2 separate regions of the Homo sapiens genome follow, and region 2 is linked to region 1. Evidence: fine-mapped expression QTL. Tissue or cell type: whole blood. Region 1 holds a variant in brackets; the other region holds the start of a gene. All regions are shown on one strand. Distances are between the middles of the regions.

The links. PIP is the estimated chance that this variant, and not a neighbour inherited with it, causes the effect. A credible set is the group of variants that fine-mapping cannot tell apart.
Region 2: it holds the start of MMRN1, and the variant in region 1 is the best candidate, but not a certain one, in a credible set for the expression of MMRN1 in whole blood (INTERVAL, PIP 0.85).

Annotation. Positions count from the first base shown.
Region 1 is chr4:89,854,687-89,864,201 of GRCh38, reverse strand. No RefSeq gene overlaps it. Among named protein-coding and RNA genes, the nearest start is that of SNCA, 22 kb to the right of the region's middle. The variant C/G (reference allele first, on the strand shown) is at 4,724.
Region 2 is chr4:89,890,125-89,899,639 of GRCh38, reverse strand. MMRN1 (multimerin 1) reads right to left here and starts at 4,786. Exons shown (of 8, transcript NM_007351.3): 1 at 4,046-4,786. The coding sequence starts at 4,668. RefSeq lists a silencer at 1,135-1,335.

The DNA.
Region 1 (9,515 bases):
TTTTATATTTTCGTCCACTCTTGAAACTTTCATTTTTCAAAAACAAAATTTAAAATGCTAACTTTTAAAATAAATGTGCCATAGTAGCACAATATGTTAATATTGGGGAAAACTGCATGGAAAATATACAGAAATGCTTCATACTTTACAATTCTTTTGTACATCCCATATTATTTCAAAAGTTAAAAGTTTTAAATATGTTCAGTCTTGAAATGTATCAGAAATGTTTATCTAAAGTTTTGTTGGTGTTAAGATTAATATATTAGTAATATTACACACAGAAAGACAGAAGGTAAAAGTAAAGTTAGTTTGAATATGACTGTCATTTTAAGTCATTAACATTTAACTTTACCAACTTCATCTCAAGTTGGCCCATATCACTGCCCAACTTAAACACATGGCTACATGCAGCAGGTAAAGTACATGGCAGGACTATTGAGATATCAAGGAGTCACTGTGTGTCAGGAAATGATAAAGTTCCCCAGCGTCTCCTCACCTGTGTCAGGCCGACTTAGGGAAACCACATTCTACGTTCATAAAGAGTGATCTGCGGGCTTGAAAGGCAAGTAAGCAGAAAGAAGTGTTTATCCCAGCAATTCATGAAAATGTTGAAAAAAAAGAAAAACTAAGTCAGCTTTCCTTAGAACCCAAGTTTCGGCCTGCCTTTTAAAATTTTCTCTATCAAAGCTGCCACCTTTTTTCCAGATGCTCAAGATAAAACACTCAACACAGAAATGCATGATTTTGTTGCTGAGATACCGGTTTGTTGTTTACACTCTGCCCTCCTATCCATTGCACCTTCCAGTTCCGCTTGCTCTCAGTCTTCACCTCTGATTGCTACTTACACAATTTATCCCATGAAACACCATCAGATTATTCCAGCACACACCAGTATCTCTGGGCCTTCCCTGGTGCACTGCACTCTCTCCTTTCCACAGAGCCTGTGGAAAGAGTGGCACAGTAGCTGGAGGGGCACACAGGGTACAGAGCACCTTTCCCCACCCAACTCTTGCGGTGCTGTAGACCTGAGGTGGTACCATGAAGGAAACATGGACAGTTGAGACCACATGCAAGAGCCCAGACACACGGCTCAAGCTCCCAGGGTCAGTGATAGTGTATAGCTAGCTGGGAACCCTGCACTGGCCCTGTGTTCAACATGAGTGGGTCACCCTAAAAGACATTTCAGCGTGGTTCTGCCTACCAAATCTTGCAAAGAAATACCTCTCCACTCAGTGAGAAGTGATCCACTAGCCAGGCTGCCCTCCTAGACCTGAATTAACCATAGAGTCCCAGAATTATTCTATAGGCTTGAGCCCCAGCATTCTGTGGGGCATCTGGTTGACCCCACAGGCAGCAGGGCTAGGAAGTCTGAGAGTAGCATCTCAAAAGGGTGAAGAGGCTGGCCCACAGGGGTCCTGTTCAGGCTGAGAGTGCAGCTCCTGAAAAGCACTGCAAACCCTGAAGTTCCCAGCGTGGGAGGGAGGGCGATTTGGAGAATTGTGAGGAAGGCATTCCAAAGTGCTACGGTGCCCAAGTGAAGACTTACGTCGAGAAGAAATAGAAAAATGACAGCTTTTCCCCAAGTGGTAACAAGAATTAGCTAAACCAAGCCTAATTGTATATTCTTCCCAATTTTAACCCATTTATTAAATCACTGAAGCTCTCCTGAGCAGAATAAGGGGTAGGGAAAGAATTCAGAATAATTCAGGGAAAATGCCTCCTCATGAAAACTCTAAAATTTGGAAAACGGTTGGTTCCTAGTAATCGAGATAGCTATATTTTCCTTCACTTACCAAAATGAAACTTAGGAAGTTCATTCTCTTTTACTCCTAATCTGCAAATACCTTAGTCCAGTGAACAAATGTGAACCGAAAGAGCCAATCTTTCAAAATACAACCTGAGTGGCTAAATGGGGCTATGTTTTAAATAGAGGCAAGTGGCCATTTGCTGACTAAAGATCACACATGTATACTCTGAGTTCCCTGAAAACCTACAGCTCTGCTCAACTTTGGGACTTCCAGAGCTCACCTGATCTACCAATCAGGCCTGGACTGCTTCAACCAATCAGGGCTCAGCTGTATCAAACAATGGGAACTGAGCATTTGCATAAACAAACCTGACTGGAAACTTGGGTGGGAACTTTTGCCATAATAACTGAACCCTCTCTTGGTTCTCTGGATCACACCTTCATTTTACACCAAAAGCTTTGAATCACGGTTTGCAAACTGTTCACTGGAATAAAGTCTCTTTCTTCCAAATTCCTTTTCAGAGAACTTTTGTTCACAGTCCCTATTATCCGAGATAAATCTGTAAGCAATATGTATGTGATGGAAAATGTTTCTTCCTTCCTCCCCAACTTTCAATCCTTGTTCTTTTCTAATCATCTTATAGATAATGTCTAAGAAATTGGCTTATTTAAGTTAAAAGTTTTGACTTCCTTACTACTCATTTGAAAGTACAAAATACCTCAGTTGCACATGCCTACCTACTACGTCAACAGTGTGCTGCTGCATATTAAAAGAGATCCAATTTCAAATCACCTAGAAAAGGCTAAATCTTACTTTTTCTTGCTTTAGATGACCTCTCTCTATATATAAGGCTGATATCAGCCACAAACCTCCCCTTCCTTGTGAGAGGAGGGCAGCCTTCAAACTGAAGTTCAGAGCATTGTTGTACAATATTCCTGAGGTATATTGCTCCCCATAGGATTGGGATCTGTGCCATAGAACCTATAAATGGGATTTACACAAGTTTCTGTTATTGTCCAGGGAATAAATTTTGGACCACAAAAGTGAAATATATAATTCCCAATGCCTTTTAAATGTATAAATATGGACAGCAGCTCAGTGCACTTTTCACTGGATTAACAGCATGCTGCTATATTGCGATACTGCCAAAAAAGACCTTATATTTCAAAGCAGAATACATTAGTCCTAGAAAAGGAGAAGAGCAGCTCTAGGGTATGTCCATGATCCCTCTGTGAATCTATTGTCTGCTTCATTGCCTGAGGCAGAACAAAAGAGCACGTGGCCAAGAATGAGGCTCTGGATCAGCCCAGCTTGGGTCCTCGGCCTCAAACTATGGCCTCAGCGACAGTTTCCTGATTTGCGGAGTAAATACTACTGTGAGTATCCAACACAATTCAGAGGATTGAATGAGGTTAATTAACTTAATTAACAAGTATTAATTAATTAATTAAAAACACTAGGTCACAGCCTGGGCCATAATAAGCTATCAATAAACACTTACTATTGGTGTTAGCAATCTTTACTTTTATTTAAGTGATGTAATTACTCCAATGTACTTTATTTGAGTGATGGAATTATAGATATATATTTATAACTTATATAAGTGTAAGTAGTTACACTTTTGGAATATACTTATACAAGTACTTATATAGGTTATATTAAAGTATATATTTATAACATATTTATAGGATTAATGTAAGAATATTTTTTATAAAATGATCTAACATGCTAAAATATAGAAATTAATTAGTAAAATTATAATTTACTTTAGCTTGTGTTTATTTGACACCAACTACCTGGACATTTAGTCCATTTACTGCAGTACTTCTCCAGGTATGATTCTTGGGCCAGCACCATCAGCATTACCTGGGAAATGAGTTAGAAATGCACATTCTCAGGCCCCACCACAGGCCCATATAAAAACCATGGATTTAGTGTATCTAGAAGGACAAAAATCAAAACACTTAGCTTCATTCAGGAAAAAAATAATTCTGATATTGATAGATACCTCTCTTCACTTTTAAAAGTTTCTTCTTATAGAAACCAGATCTGATTGTATTGTTAAAATTAAACTTGTAAATTTTTTCACAACGAATTTCCTGTATGGTGGTCTATGTTTGGGGAAATACTCATCCCGGAACTCAACTGTACAGGGTTGGGCATGTTTTACATACAAGTGTATGTCTCTCTTCTTGTCTTCCTTCTCCCTTGAACCCTAGTCTCCCTCCCTGCCTTTTCAGAAGTTTCCCCCTGGAGTTCTCAGCCTATTCTCTTTTATCTTTCCATCCAAACGTAGTCACCAATATAGTCCTCTTTTCTCTCTCAATCTACACAGCAGAAGCCTCCACTGCTGCTTTAGAATCCAGAGATATTTCCAATCCCATTATCCCCAAAGATGAAGTCTCTCTTAAAAATCGAGATTCTCTATTTTAGTAGTGGTGGCTCTGTGTTCATGCTGTTCCCTCTGCCTAGAACAGCATTTCTTCATATTTTCACATATTTTTACAGCACATGGCACATAAAAAGCACACAATAAACACCAACATTCTGAGTTAAAAATGTGAAATGTCTTTTCCTGCAAAAATAATATATGCCTGGTGTTTGTCCCAGTTCAATACACATTTATTGACTGCCTAATACTTTGCAGGCATTGAACAAAGCATGGGGTAGAAATAATAACAGTATTTTCTCCCCACACTGAAGTAGTGTGCACTCTACAAATAGGGAAGATATATATATCTTCCTTATATTATATATATTTATATATATAAATATATATTTATATTATTTATATATATATAAACATATATATATAAATAGATTACTTTCACATAATGTCACAGGTGTAGCAATAGGAGAGTACACACAGTGGCTTGTGAATACTGAGGCCAACTTGAGAGATCAGAAAAGGTTTTTAGGAGAAGGTGATGAAGGGCTGAATATATTTTAAAACTGTTAAATGTGTTTTCAAAGGG[C/G]AATAAACACCCATATGTTCCATAAATATTATAAACAGCATGCTTATTCAAGTTAGTTCAGATTATGTTTTCAAAAGCAAAATAGATTTAAGTCACACTTATTCTTTCCTTTAAATAAAATGTTCTTCAAGTTAAAAGTATTATGAAGTATGTCTGGGAACCATTTTCTTGTTGGAGGCCCTTAACATCTTCACATATTCCCAAATCAGAAATTAGCAAACCATTTTGACATCTCCCTCTTCCTCAATTCTCTCATACAAGCATCCCTAAGTCATATCCATTGCATTTCCAATGTTTTTCAAATTATTTTTTCCTTTAACATTTGTATTGTCAGTGCCTTATTTTTGCATCTCCTAATTTCTTTCTAGATAACATCCTAATTTTTTCCCCCAAATCTAGTTTTCATCCCCTCCAAATATCTGCAAGATATCACAGTGCTCTTTAAGCAAAACAAATCGGATCACATTTTTCTCTTATTTAAATCTTTTATTATTATGCTCCTCTAACTAGGATGAATATGCATCCCAGTTTGTCCAAATGTAGATATTCCAGTTTTATACTTGCTGACTAGCATAATTGTCAGGAGTGTCTCCTTTCACTCTCAGAAGTGCCTGTTCTGAATTCAAAATTATATAGTTAGCCTTCTCATTGCCTTCATTATTTTGTTTTAATTCAATAATCTTACATTAAAATCTTCATTTATAATGTGAGTCCTGCCATTAAGAGATGCAAGATTGCTCTTACACCCGGCTTTACCCTTTTACAATTTGAGTTCATCAAAATCATGGATTATGTCTTAAAAACAATTAGTATTTAACACCATGCCTGCCATTGAATAGGCATGTAATGATGTTTATTAAATTTTAAATAGTTATATTTAAAATTGAAGGTTTTGTTATTAATCATATTCTATGTGAAACATCCTTAGATTATTGAAAGCATCCATATGCTTTTCGACATTCTTTTATATATATATTTTTATTATACTTTAAGTTCTAATGTACATGTGCACAATGTGCAGGTTTGTTACATATGTATACATGTGCCATGTTGGTGTGCTGCACCCACTAACTCGTCATTTACATTAGGTAGATCTCCTAATGCTATCCCTCCCCCATCCCCCCACCCCACAACAGGCCCCTGCATGTGATATTCCCCTTCCTGTGTCCAAGTGTTCTCATTGCTCAATTTCCACCTATGAGTGAGAACATGTGGTGTTTGGTATTTTGTCCTTGCGATAGTTTGCTGAGAATGATGGTTTCCAGCTTCATCCATGTCTCTACAAAGGACACGAACTCATCATTTGTTATGGCTGCATAGTATTCCATGGTGTATATGTGCCACATTTTCTTAATCCAGTCTATCATTGTTGAACATTTGGGTTGGTTCCAAGTCTTTGCTATTGTGAATAGTGCCGCAATAAACATACATGTGCATGTGTCTTTATAGCAACATGATTTATATTCCTTTGGGTATATACCCAGTAATGGGATGGCTGGATCAAATGGCATTTCTAGCTCTAGATCCCTGAGGAATTGCCACACTGTCTTCCACAATGGTTGAACTAGTTTACAGTCCCATCAGCAGCATAAGAGTGTTCCTATTTCTCCACATCCTCTCCAGCACCTGTTGTTTCCTGAATTTTTAAGATCACCATTCTAATTGGTGTGAGATAATATCTCGTTGTGGTTTTGATTTGCATTTCTCTGATGGGCAGTGATGATGACCCTTTTTTCATGTGTCTGTTGGCTGCATAAATGTCTTCTTTTGAGAAGTGTCTGTTCATATCCTTTGCCCACTTTTTGATGGGGTTGTTTGTTTTTTTCTTGTAAATTTGTTTGAGTTCTTTGTAGATTCTGGATATTAGCCCTTTGTCAGATGAGTAGATTGCAAAAATTTTCTCCCATTCTGTAGGTTACCTGTTCACTCTGATGGTAGTTTCTTTTGCTGTGCAGAAGCTCTTTAGTTTAATTAGATCCTATTTGTCAATTTTGGCTTTCGTTGCCATTGCTTTTGGTGTTTTAGACATGAAGTCCTTGACCATGCCTATGTCCTGAATGGTGTTGCCTAGGTTTTCTCCTAGGGTTTTTATGGTTTTAGATCTAACATTGAAGTCTTTAATCCATCTTGAATTAATTTTTCTATAAGGTGTAAGGAAGGGATCCAGTTTCAGCTTTCTACATATGGCTAGCCAGTTTTCCCAGCACCATTTGTTAAATAGGGACTCCTTTCCCAATTTCTTGTTTTTGTCAGGTTTGTCAGAGATCAGATCATTGTAGATGTGTGGTATTATCTGAGGGCTCTGTTCTGTTCCATTGGTCTATCTCTCTGTTTTGGTACCAGTACCGTGCCATTTTGGTTACTGTAGCCTTGTAGTTTTGGTGTGGATGTCCTTTCTGTTTGTTAGTTATCCTTTTGACAGTCAGGATCCTCAGCTGCAGGTCTGTTGGAGTTTGCTGGAGGTCCACTCCAGAATCTGTTTGCCTGGGTACCAGCAGAGCCTGCAGAACAGCGAAAATTGCTGAACAGCAAATGTTGCTGTCTGATCGCTCTTCTGGAGGTTTCATCTCAGAGGGGTACCTGGCTGTGCGAGGTGTCAGTCTGCCCCTACTTGGGGGTGCCTCCCAGATAGGCTACTCGGGGGTGAAGGACCAACTTGAGGAGGCAGTCTTTCCATTCTCAGATCCCAAACTCCATGCTGGGAGAACCACTACTCTCTTCAAAGCTCTTCGACAGGGACATTTAAGTCTGCAGAGGTTTCTGCTGCCTTTTGTTTGGCTATGCCCTGCCCCCAGAGGTGGAGTCTACAGAGGCAGGCAGGCCTCCTTGAACTGCGGTGGGCTCCCCCCAGTTTGGGCTTCCTGGCCACTTTGTTTACCTACTCAAGCCTCAGCAATGGCGAGCGCCCTTCCCCCAGCCTCGCTGCCACCTTACAGTTCAATCTCAGACTGCTGTGCTAGCAATGAGCAAGGCTCCGTGGGCATGGGACCCTCTGAGCCAGGCGCAGGATATAATTTCCTGGTGTGCCGCTTGCTAAGACCATTGGAAAAGCGCAGTATTTGGGTGGGAGTGACCCGATTTTTCAGGTGCCGTCTGTCACAGCTTTGCTTGGCTATGAAAGGGAATTCCCTCACCCCTTGCACTTCCTGGGTGAGGCAATGCCTCGCTGTTCTTCGGGTCATGCTCGATGTGCTGCACCCACTGTCCTGCACCCACTGTCCAATAAGCCACAGTGAGATAAACCCAGTACCTCAGTTGGAAATGCAGAAATCACCAGTATTCTGCGTTGCTCACACTGCAAGCTGTAGACTGGAGCTGTTCCTATTCGGCCATCTTGGAACTGCCCTCACTGACTCAACATTATTTTTAACATGTTTATTTACACATTTATAAAATGATCACTGAGTACTTAATACGTAATCTAGTTGAGCAATGTCCTGGTGATGCTTGGATATGAGAAAATGAAAAAACAAACATCTAATTACAGATGCTCCTCAATTTACAGTGATGTTATTTCTCGATTAACCTATCATAAATTAAAAATATTGCAAATCAAAAATACACTTAAACACCTAACTTATCAAACACTATAGCTTAAGCTTTTCCTAACTTAAAATGCTCAGAACACTCACATTAACCTACAAATTTGGACTCCTACATTTGGGTAGGCTAATGTAAGTATTCTGAGCCCTTTAAGGCAGGCTAGGCTAAGCTATGTTTGTGCATGACACAAAGCCCATTTTACAATAAAGTGTTGAATATCTCAGGTAATAGTATTATATCACATATCAATAGCCCAGGAAAAGATCAAAATTTAAAATTTTAAGTACAATTTCTACTAAATGGGCATCACTTTGACACCATTGTAAAGTCAAAAAATCATAAGTTTGGGATCATCTGTAAATGAGGGCACAATTCCCACAAGAAGATTTCAGAATCAGATTCAAGATATTGTGAGGACACAAAAGAGGAAGTTATCAACTCTCAGGGAGTGGAGGGGAAAAAACGGCTTTATGAAAGAAATGACTTTTGGGCAGTCTTGGAAGATAAGCAATTGTAAATAATCAGTAGAACTGCAGTAGGACATAAGACGAGCCATGGATTAGCCTAGACAGGTTACATAGAGGTCAGAGCTCAGAGGAGATTATTGGCCAGTCCTTGTAAACAACGATGAGTGTCTAAAGAGTGTCATGTAAGAGAAAGAGAGAAACAGTATAAAAATTCATAAAAGTCAGCCTGGTAGCAGTGTGACAAGCGTACTTAAAGAAAAAGACACTTGCCCTAGGTCAACAAAGTTTATTTCAGAATAAGAATTATATTAATATATAGGCATCTGAATTCAATAGTATTTTTGCCAAAATCAAGGCATAATATGTAAAAATGTATTCATTTATATCCCACGTTGATTGAAGTCATTTCTTCTAATTTTCAGGTTTTAGCTCTGCCTATGCACGTGGATGAGACCTAGGTCTCAATCAAGGTCTGGCAGTTCAGAAGGTCAAGTCAGACCATCAACCATGGTAGCTACTTCATTGACCAGCCTCACCTAGAATGAGTATAACTGTGAAGCTTTTCAATTTTCTTTATTATTTTAGCCATACTGCTATCATTAGGATATTTGACCTCTCCAAACTTCACGTTGAAATTTGATCCCCAATGTTGAACATGGGGCTTCATGGAAGGTGTTTGGGTAATGGGGGCAGATCCCTCATGAATAGATTAATCCCCTCCTTAGGCATGGTGATGGTAAGCGAATTCTCACTCTATTAGTTACCAAGAGAGCTGGTTGTTA
Region 2 (9,515 bases), 35 kb before region 1:
AGTAGGCAGTTAGATTGTATCATTACCTCATTTCACCTATTATCCTCTCAGGCAAGGTTTACTGACCCCATTCACAATTGGTAGGCCATTCCCCCCATTATACACTACAATTTCTTAAGCTTCATTCAGAATCAGCATTTGTGATTCACTGTTATTCCTCCTCTCACCTCTGCCACTGGGCTGTTGGTTCCATAAGGCAGGACATGTAGGAGTTCTTGTTCATTGTTTTACTCCCAGCACAAGCACAGTGCTTGGGACAGATAAGGTGTTCAGCAAATATTTGTTCAACATATAAATACACTAATCCTAATTTCTTATTTCCATCCTTCCTATTTCAAAGTGCTTGGTCATTGACTAACACCCACTCTGCCAGACAGGAAACCATAGGTCTATTTTGGCCAGGAGTTCCTGCAAGGCTAAAAAAAAAAAGAAGAAAAACTACAAGATGAAACAAAAATATGCCAGAATAATCCTGAATAATCTAGAAAAGAACCTGTAATAAACATAAATACGCCTTTTACTAAGAATTATTATAAAATTCCAAGAATGGTAGAAAAAAGAACAAATATGAGTTTATTCTAAATCAACCAGGTTTTTTTCATAAACAAATGCAAATATTTGGGAAGCTTTCTTCTTTATATTCACATATTAATCCTCATATTTCACATTCAGTATGATTAAATATTGATTGTGTACCTGCTATAAACCAGAGACTTTGCTAGCTCTGAAAATAAGTCCCTATATGCAAAGATACTACAAATTCATTATGATTATTATGTAGTGTCGTAAGTGCAGTGAACAGGGGAATTCAAAGAGACCTGTAGGAGCGATTAGAAAGGCCACCTAACTTCACCTGAGAAGGCTTCCTGGAGTTATTATTAGGTGTGAAAAGAGAGAACGATGGCAAAAGAGGGCCCATTGTTAGTCACAGGGGCAGACAGGGAAGAAAGGTGGGTTTAACAAACAGCACATATTGTACCAGAGAACCACTTATTTGAATAGCCGGAAGTGGCGGAAGATGAGGTTGGGGAGGTAGGCAGGAGGCAGATCTAGGATGGCATCGTGTGACTAACTGGGTAACAAATCTAGATTGTATTCTGGAGGCAACCAATAGCCTGTGAAGCCTCACGAGCTGGGAAGTGAACTGGTCACGCTTATCTTCCCACTTGTGATAAGAGACTGTACCTGCCAAGGGAGTGTAATGTAGGAGCTGAGAGCTACAACTCTAAAGCCAGCCAGCTTGGATTTGAGTCTTTGCCCTGAGCTTTGTTAGCCAAGTGACCTTAGGTAAGCTACTTAATCCCTCTGTAAAGAAATAATGATAAAAATCTTCCTCTTCTTTATGGAGTTATAGTAATGATTAAATGAGTGAATATATTCACTGACAATAGTAGAGTACTAGTAACAGATGCCATATAAGTGTTTGCTACTATTATTATTATTATTTGCCAATCAAATGAAAGTACGAAGGACTTCTTTTGACCATATCAAGGGTTTGCAGCAGCACTGTGTCCAAAAGTGAAGGACCTAGGCTTTTCTCTAATGCCATTGTCATTTGCATGGCCTAATGAGTAAGGAATCTTGGTAATGGAAAGGATTACTAAAAGAAAACCTCAGGCTCTCCAGGACCTCAAATAAGAGAATCCCTACATGCAGTTAGTACTTTTCTATAGAAGGAGTTTAAGATTATTTTTGTTAGAAAATCCAGAGGATAAAGTTCTGTTCAGCAAGTTATACCTTTAGTATCTTGTTTTCTCATAGCACATATTAACATTTTTTGAAGTCTGATAGGTATGTTAGTGTTTACTTTTTATAGGGAATATTCCTTAGACAGAGGAATTATTATTATTTTTTTAAATTCTGTGTAACCCAAAGCCTAGCACAGTGCTAGCACATGATGGGCAAATTATAAATATTCATCAAATTGTTCCCAACATTTGAAAGCAAGGACCTTGGATAACACAACTAGCATTTATTTAAAAACTAGTATTTATCAAACTATTAGTTACTAGTTCTAATTATGACACAACTGTATGCCACTTTCTATATGGTATGTAAAATTTAAATGCTATTTTAACTTGAATTGTCTCTTTTTTCTGTTTATTATATTTCCCTTTCTATTAAAAAATTCTGGCTGGGTGCGGTGGCTCACGCCTGTAATCCCAGCACTTTGGGAGGCTGAGGTGGGTGGATCATGAGGTCAAGAGATCAAGACCACCCTGGCCAACATGGTGAAACCCCATCTCTACTAAAAATACAAAAATTAGCTGGGTGTGATGGCACACCACCTGTAGTCCCAGCTACTCAGAAGGCTGAGGCAAGAGAATCGCTTGAACCTGGGAGTCGAAGATTGCAGTGAGCCGAGATTGTGCCACTGCACTCCAGCCTGGCAAGAGAGCGAGACTCCGTCTCAAAAAAAAAAAAATTCTTAGCTATAGCATCTCTGAAAAGCTCACAATCGTTTCCCATGAATGTCCAAGGGTTTTACTGTAATTAGTTTTTAAAAATTTAATTACAGCCTCTAATAAAATATGATTAACAGAAATGATGCATTCAAGTGATTTAGAAAAAGCTGTCAATAAATGACATTTCTGATTATTTAATAGATAAAATCCTGTTGTCCCCCAAAGTGAGAAAGATTAATGCATGTCTGTTAAATGTTTTTTTAATGGCAAATCTACTTGTCCCAAAGTGAACATATTGTAATCTGTACTATTTGTTTTACAGTAAGCTGGGATTGTTCCAAAGTCCACCAAGTGAATACTTTTTTAGTTACAATCAGATTTACTTATATATTTCGAAAAATTCTATAACTTTTGAAATATAGTGAAAAATAGACTTGAATAATAAATAATACAGAAATAAGTAAATTCATTGGCTAGAATTCTTACCAGTGTCTCTCTTCTTCTCACCTTTATATCAGCAACAGCTTTAACTAAATGTCTTTCACATAGCAGGTGTGTCAACTTCTATTTTTAACTTGGATTTTATTTTATTATTAGTAAGATATTTAACCCCATTTTGCTCCCAAGACATGTCTGGTGTCTTGACTTTGTATTATTACATGTAAAAACTATTTGTAAGTTTAGTTTTGCAATACTAAACTTCTAGTATTCCAAACATACAGATGACTCTGAGCATTAAATGAATAAAATATTGACCCACCCAGATATTTTTTCTTTGTTTATTTTGATTTGACTATCACTTCTTTTGAAAACCCTCTTTAACAACACTCCTTTAAATTTGTTTTATTTTATTTCAACCACTCAAATTGCTCTAACTTTAAATTAAAATTAATTTGAAAAATAAGTTTTCTGATTCATCATATTCATGATGGCAACACAACTCAAAATAATCATGGTACTAGCAAAATTTGAGTTGTTGAGCACCTATTCTGTGAGGAGCATGCATCTAAGCACTTTTCATTCATTTTTATCTGAACGAGAACCCTGCAAAGTTTTATTTTTATTGACATTCCTTGTATTAAATCTGTAGTTTCCATATGAAGAAACTGAGGTTCACAGACATCAACTGAGTTGCTCAAAATCATGGAACTAGACCATACTGAAGCCAGGATTGCACCCCTGGTGTGCTTGTTTCGATCTTTGACAACTGTTACTTTTTATAATACTGCTATTCCAATTTTCACATCTGTTCAAGCCCCAATTTTATTTATTTGTTTATTTTTGTCTTTCATATTGTGAATATGGTTGGGAACACAATCAACATATCCTTGAATTAAACTAACAGCCACCGTGGTGCTAGTTTGCTTGGCAATGACTATTCTAAGTAAAACTACCTCTATAAGTGAGTAGAAAAGTGAATGATTATTTCAGTTAAAACAAAATTGCTGCATTTTATTTCTTCATTTTTCCCTATTAGATAAATTAACAATAACTTTATCTAACTGAAATGGTGAAATTATAAATATGATCCAATTTCATCTTGAATTTGAAATAATTTTCTGGGAGTGAGGTAAATTTCACTTGCAATCTTCTAGACCTGATAGACAGAGAAAGAACAAAAAGAAAAGAAGATTTCTTACTTTCCTCTAGTTGTTTCGAAATTTGATTTTTGGTAGTCAGTTCTTTGGCTGGAACTGCTGTCACCCCGGCTGAGGTATGTTTCCCGTGGGGCTCGATTTCCCACGCCTCCAGTGCCTCCAACGCCTCCAATGCCTCCAGTGCCTCCAACTGTGTTTAGAGAAGTTGCTTGTTCATTTGACTTTCTGGCAAAGCTCTGAAGAAATTTCAGTGTAGAATTGGAAAGGACCACTGATTCTGCTCCAGGATTGAACTTGATGCTAGCGTTGGTTGGGAGGGTAAGATTCTGTAACTTGACCACTCCTTCTGCTTTCTCTGTGGATGTGAGAGTTTGATTTCTCACACCCTCAGCAGGTGCACTTGTTTCTGAGGGAGGCAGTGTTGATTTAAGAAGACTGTCTTCAGAAGTTCTTGCCTCTGGAGTTGTAGCTATCTCCGCCGACATGACCCGAGTGGTTGGCAGTATTTGCAAACTTTGTATTTTATTTGGAGGAACTGAAGCAGAAGGCATAGTCTTCTGAGAGTTCCCATCCTCAGGTATAGTCCAAGAATGCTTACTGTTGTTAAGCCCAATGCCCCCACTCCATAAACTAGAAAGAAGGACAAATAATCTTGCCCCCTTCATCTCAGTAGTTTGAAGCAAGGTAGCTCATGTGAAATTTGGGGACAAAATCCTTATGGCCTTTTTGATAGCTGCTTCCACACTGAATCTGCTAAGACTGAGTTTTGCCAGTTTGAGATGTGTAGAGGAAACAGGTTTCTGTGTTTTGTAGCGTACTCAGGAAGTTCGGTTTCCTGTTTCTGTAGGGTTTTTGTGATCTGTGACCTCTAGTGGGATGGCTCTATGGAAGTGCTGAAGGGTCTCTGACAAAGCTAAGGGTAAATGGGAAAGCACAGGCAATTATTATCAGGAAAACCCATGAAAAAATATGAAGTAACTTTCTTTTCCTGAGCACACCCTGGTTTCACGTTTCACTGATTTCAAAGAGAAATTTCAGGTTCACGATAGAGAGTGCAAAATTTTGTTGATATAGGCTGAATACAGTTTTAACATTTTGTTCTACTACATAAAGACACTGAGAAAAGTTTTTATGATACTTATCTGCTGTGCTCTATCCAGAAAGCTGCATTTTGTTCAAGTGTATATCCACATGCATACACATAATCAAAAGCTTGTTTACAGTGTCTCTATCCTTTCATATAGTACATATACTCTGAATTATAAAACATCTATCTACATACATGTATATCTTTCTATTTTTATAAATACACTTCAGCTGTATCATTACTTAATCTCAATGATTATAAGTAATAACAGAAAAGGAAAGCATAAGTAATTGAATTAGACAGGTATACCAGGAAGTCACTTTAAATTTTGCTCCTGGAACTTCTACCAGAGATACCCACTAATGGAATAAATAATCAGAATTTTACTTCCTTTATTTTCCAATCACGATTGTCTGATGGTTGGGGGTAACCAATATTTTACTAGTAAGGGATAGATGAAGAAAAAATGGAGTCACATAAAAATAAATTAAAATGGGATCATATAGAATGCTTTTATACATTTACTGTAGGACAAAATTATGCCAGTTGTAGGTAGCAGAGAACCAGATTTATCTGAGTTTTCTATGGGTTTTTTTCTGGTAGAGATGTTTCATGAGATTTATCATTTAATTTCTCCAGCAAATCTCTGATCCTCAGATTTCAATTAACCTCTTATCTATAAAATTTCATATCAGTCTGTTTAAATAGATATACAAACTAAGTTATAATAGTTCATTCATTCATTCACTCATTCATTTATTTATGTATTCATGAATTCAGTAGTTACATAACCCCTCATTCTGTGCAAAGCACTCTCTTATGTGCTAGGATTATAAGGAAAACAAAAATATTCTTTGCTGTCAATTTGCTAAATGTCTGTTATGTTATTTGGAAGCTAAATCCATGTGTAACCCATTTTTCTGTCAACTTCTGTGCCAGGCATTATGCTCTTGCTAAATATTCAGTCATTGATTGTTAAACTATTATTAGATTTTATTTTTTGTTATTAGATTATTAAGTTCCGTCTTTCAAAATTAGAGAATTGGAAATCTAATGCCTGCTTGGTTATGTTTTATTGTAGATATTTTCTCTAGTCCTTATTCCTGGACACAGTGCACCAGGATTTGAAATAAGGCCTAATTCTTCCTTGAGCTACTAACTACTTGGGATTAATATTTTTTTCTTCCCTCAATCTTTGCCATTTATTTCCGTAAGTGTATTGTTGACCTACTAGAGAGTATTTATTTAAACTAAGACAATCATCAGCAACCCCAATCGACTCTGATATGGAGTAAAAAGCATCCGTTTCTCAGATATACCACAGAACAATCCACAAACCTTGCCTTAGTAAAGGAGCAAAAAGGTCCAGCAGAGACAATCCAGGAAACGATTAGTTACTAAAAAGAGCAAAAGAGCAATGAAACTGCACAACTGTCACAATACAAACATGGTTTTCAGTAGAAAGAAAAAGGCTTTACAGTGTCTTTATCTGGAAAACACAGAAGAAACTAGCTTTGGCTTATGGAAGAGCAGTAATTTCATAAAATTTAGGAAAAATGTTCCTATTTATATTCAATTTTACACCAATTTTCCTAGCTTTAGTAAAAATAGATGAATGGACTGTCTTGAAGATTTACAAAACTGCCAAAATAATGACATTCACTGATTTTTTGTTTTCTTCTACAGTTTGAAAGACTGTTCAAACCTGGTCTGGCAAGTGAACTTTAGTGGTAAAATGTCACCCATTGGATCTATAACTGATAACAAATAGTTATCCAATGATAATAAAAACTGAACAAAGCTAAGCAATTCATTTAACCACTTATAAGGTATTGACCAATAATGACTTTTGCTCACCCCTATCCTAGCTTACAAGGGACCCTGAAATCAAAAGGCTAAAGGTTCTGTATCTCACTATTGATCTACTAAGCCATCTTGCACTTTAACTCCCCAGAGAATCTCAAGCTCATTTAGTGATTTTGGGTATATGGATCAGCCCTTAATTAGAGGTATAAAATACTCCAGAAATTGTCAGAGACCTTGTCTCAAATTCTTCTTTCTGAGACTAATTAATACTCATTAAATAACAATTAAGAAAAATAATATTGCTGAGATGACTGGCTGAAGAGTACTCAGTTTACTCATTCTTCTAGATACTATTATACTAGATACTAGATACTAAAATACTATTGTTGGATTAAACTATATCATCAGTTTTGTATAACTGGACCCTGTCATTTTGCTATACCTCCCATTTCCCACTTGGTTGTTCATATTAAATTATGTTTTACCATCTTGCCATTTGTTCACCATGAATATTTTATAAGATAAAAATCATGAAATTTATTATATTATGAGTTATCAGGAGATTTTTATGTCATTTTTCATTGTATCATAAACATAGGATTCACTATATACTGCAACATGGGTTGTCTGTAGGTGATGAGATAATGGGTTTGGTTCTTTTCCACCTTATAATGCATATGAATTAATTTTCTAACCACAAGAAAAAAAAACAAAAAAAGATTATTAAGTTAAAAGAAAATATAAATGTGAGTTAAAAGAGAATCTTAGATTGAGGAGTTCACTGTAGATGGTGCTGTGTACTATTCAAAGCATTTTTATAGCTGCAAGACTTATTCTTTGTAAAATGTTGGGGGTATGGGCTAACTTCCACCAGATTAATAGGATTTTTCAGCAGCTGTTTTCTTCATTTTTCACATGAGAAATTCCTATTTTCTTAAAATAGTTTAAAACATCCAAAATATGATTTCATTATTACCTTCCTCCATAAGACATATCTGTCAAAAAATAATAGAAGAAAACAAATTTTAGAGCTTTTTCAATTTAATGGTGTTTGAAAAATATTGAAAACCTGTCAAATTTACATGTGGACAAAGGGGGTTATCAACATACAGCAAAAGGGCTGGAGAAGAAGAGAAACTGATTTCTGCATGATTTTGATGAGTCGATGTGCTAGGTAAGTTAAATTTGGCATATTATTTAATTCTTACAAACATGTTAGGTAAGTATTCTATTCTTGTTATACTCATGGGAAGTTAAACTTAAAGAAGTTAAATAACTTCCTAGGGTAACACATTAGTAATTGTTAGAACAGATATTTATGCCCAATCCTGATTCAATAGGTATTCGGTAAATATTTGTTGAATCAGTGAACGAATAGATGAAGCTATGACCATACTCCTATGTATAGTGATAACAAATGGGTTGAAGAGGGCTCTATTTCACATTATTATAGCCACACAAAAGAAAAAAAAAGTAATCTAAATAAATATAATGAACTTGTTCCGGGAACACACCTTCAAAAGTCTTCTGAAATACCCATTCAGTCAGATTGCCTCCTGTAAGTTACTCCTAAAGAAAATTCAGAAAGCCCATTGTTTCTATATTATCTATTCTCAAAATAAATATGAGAAGGTTTATTTTGAAGCCGTCACAGCCACATTAGAATAATAAACCAAAGACTGGGAGTTGTAGAATAAAAGATAATGAAGCAGTAGTGATGCTAGAAAAATTTAAGATAAGCAAATAAATTGGAAGTAAGAAAATTTAGGTTTGAGTGGGCTGGCAGGAAAGGGAAGATGGACAATTAATGAATTATATAATTCTTAATATTAAGTGAGAGAAACATATTAGTTTATCAGGAAAAAAAAACAACATATTTGTCCTAATATTAAAATTTTAACTTTATAAGATCATAAGGAACATACTGATAAAGATGACCAAATGCCCCTCATGAGAAAATGAATGTAAGAATAGTTCACAAAACCATGTCATTGCTGATTTTATATTTCCCATTTACGCAGAACAGTACCCTTGAAGTGAAAGAGTTCAAAACGCATTTCTTTTGATCATTTTAGAAATAACCATATTTTCATTTTCTTAATGGAAAGCTGTATCTGGTTATCAAGTGATTATCATTAGTGACTTCCACTTCTGGAAATATGGAATAGACATATCTCCCTATTCCTTCTGCTAAGTACATCTGAAAATATGGACATTATATATAGAAAAAATAGAATAAGACTCTGAAGAGTGGAGAAAAGAAGGCAGAATGGCTAGGTGACCCAAGGAACAATGAAGCACTGAGTTCCCAAGTTTACTTTTGCCTCATTTCTGGGTACTGGAGAATTTGGCAAACTAGGAACGCCAATGGGCAGAAACAATAAAAGCCCCAATAAAAGCTCTCTTTAGGCCAAGGACTAGAGAATTGTCAGCCTGGAAAGAAGAGAAAGTTTTTAGAAAATAACCACTCTACTCCCACCATAGAGCACAGGGGAAAAAAAAAAAAAAAAGCAAAATAAAAGACAAAAGAACCCACCCTTGCCAGCAAAGCCTGAAGGGAGAATTAAACTTCCACCTCATGAGGTTATAACAAGGTGTCCCAACCCTCATTCTTCTGTT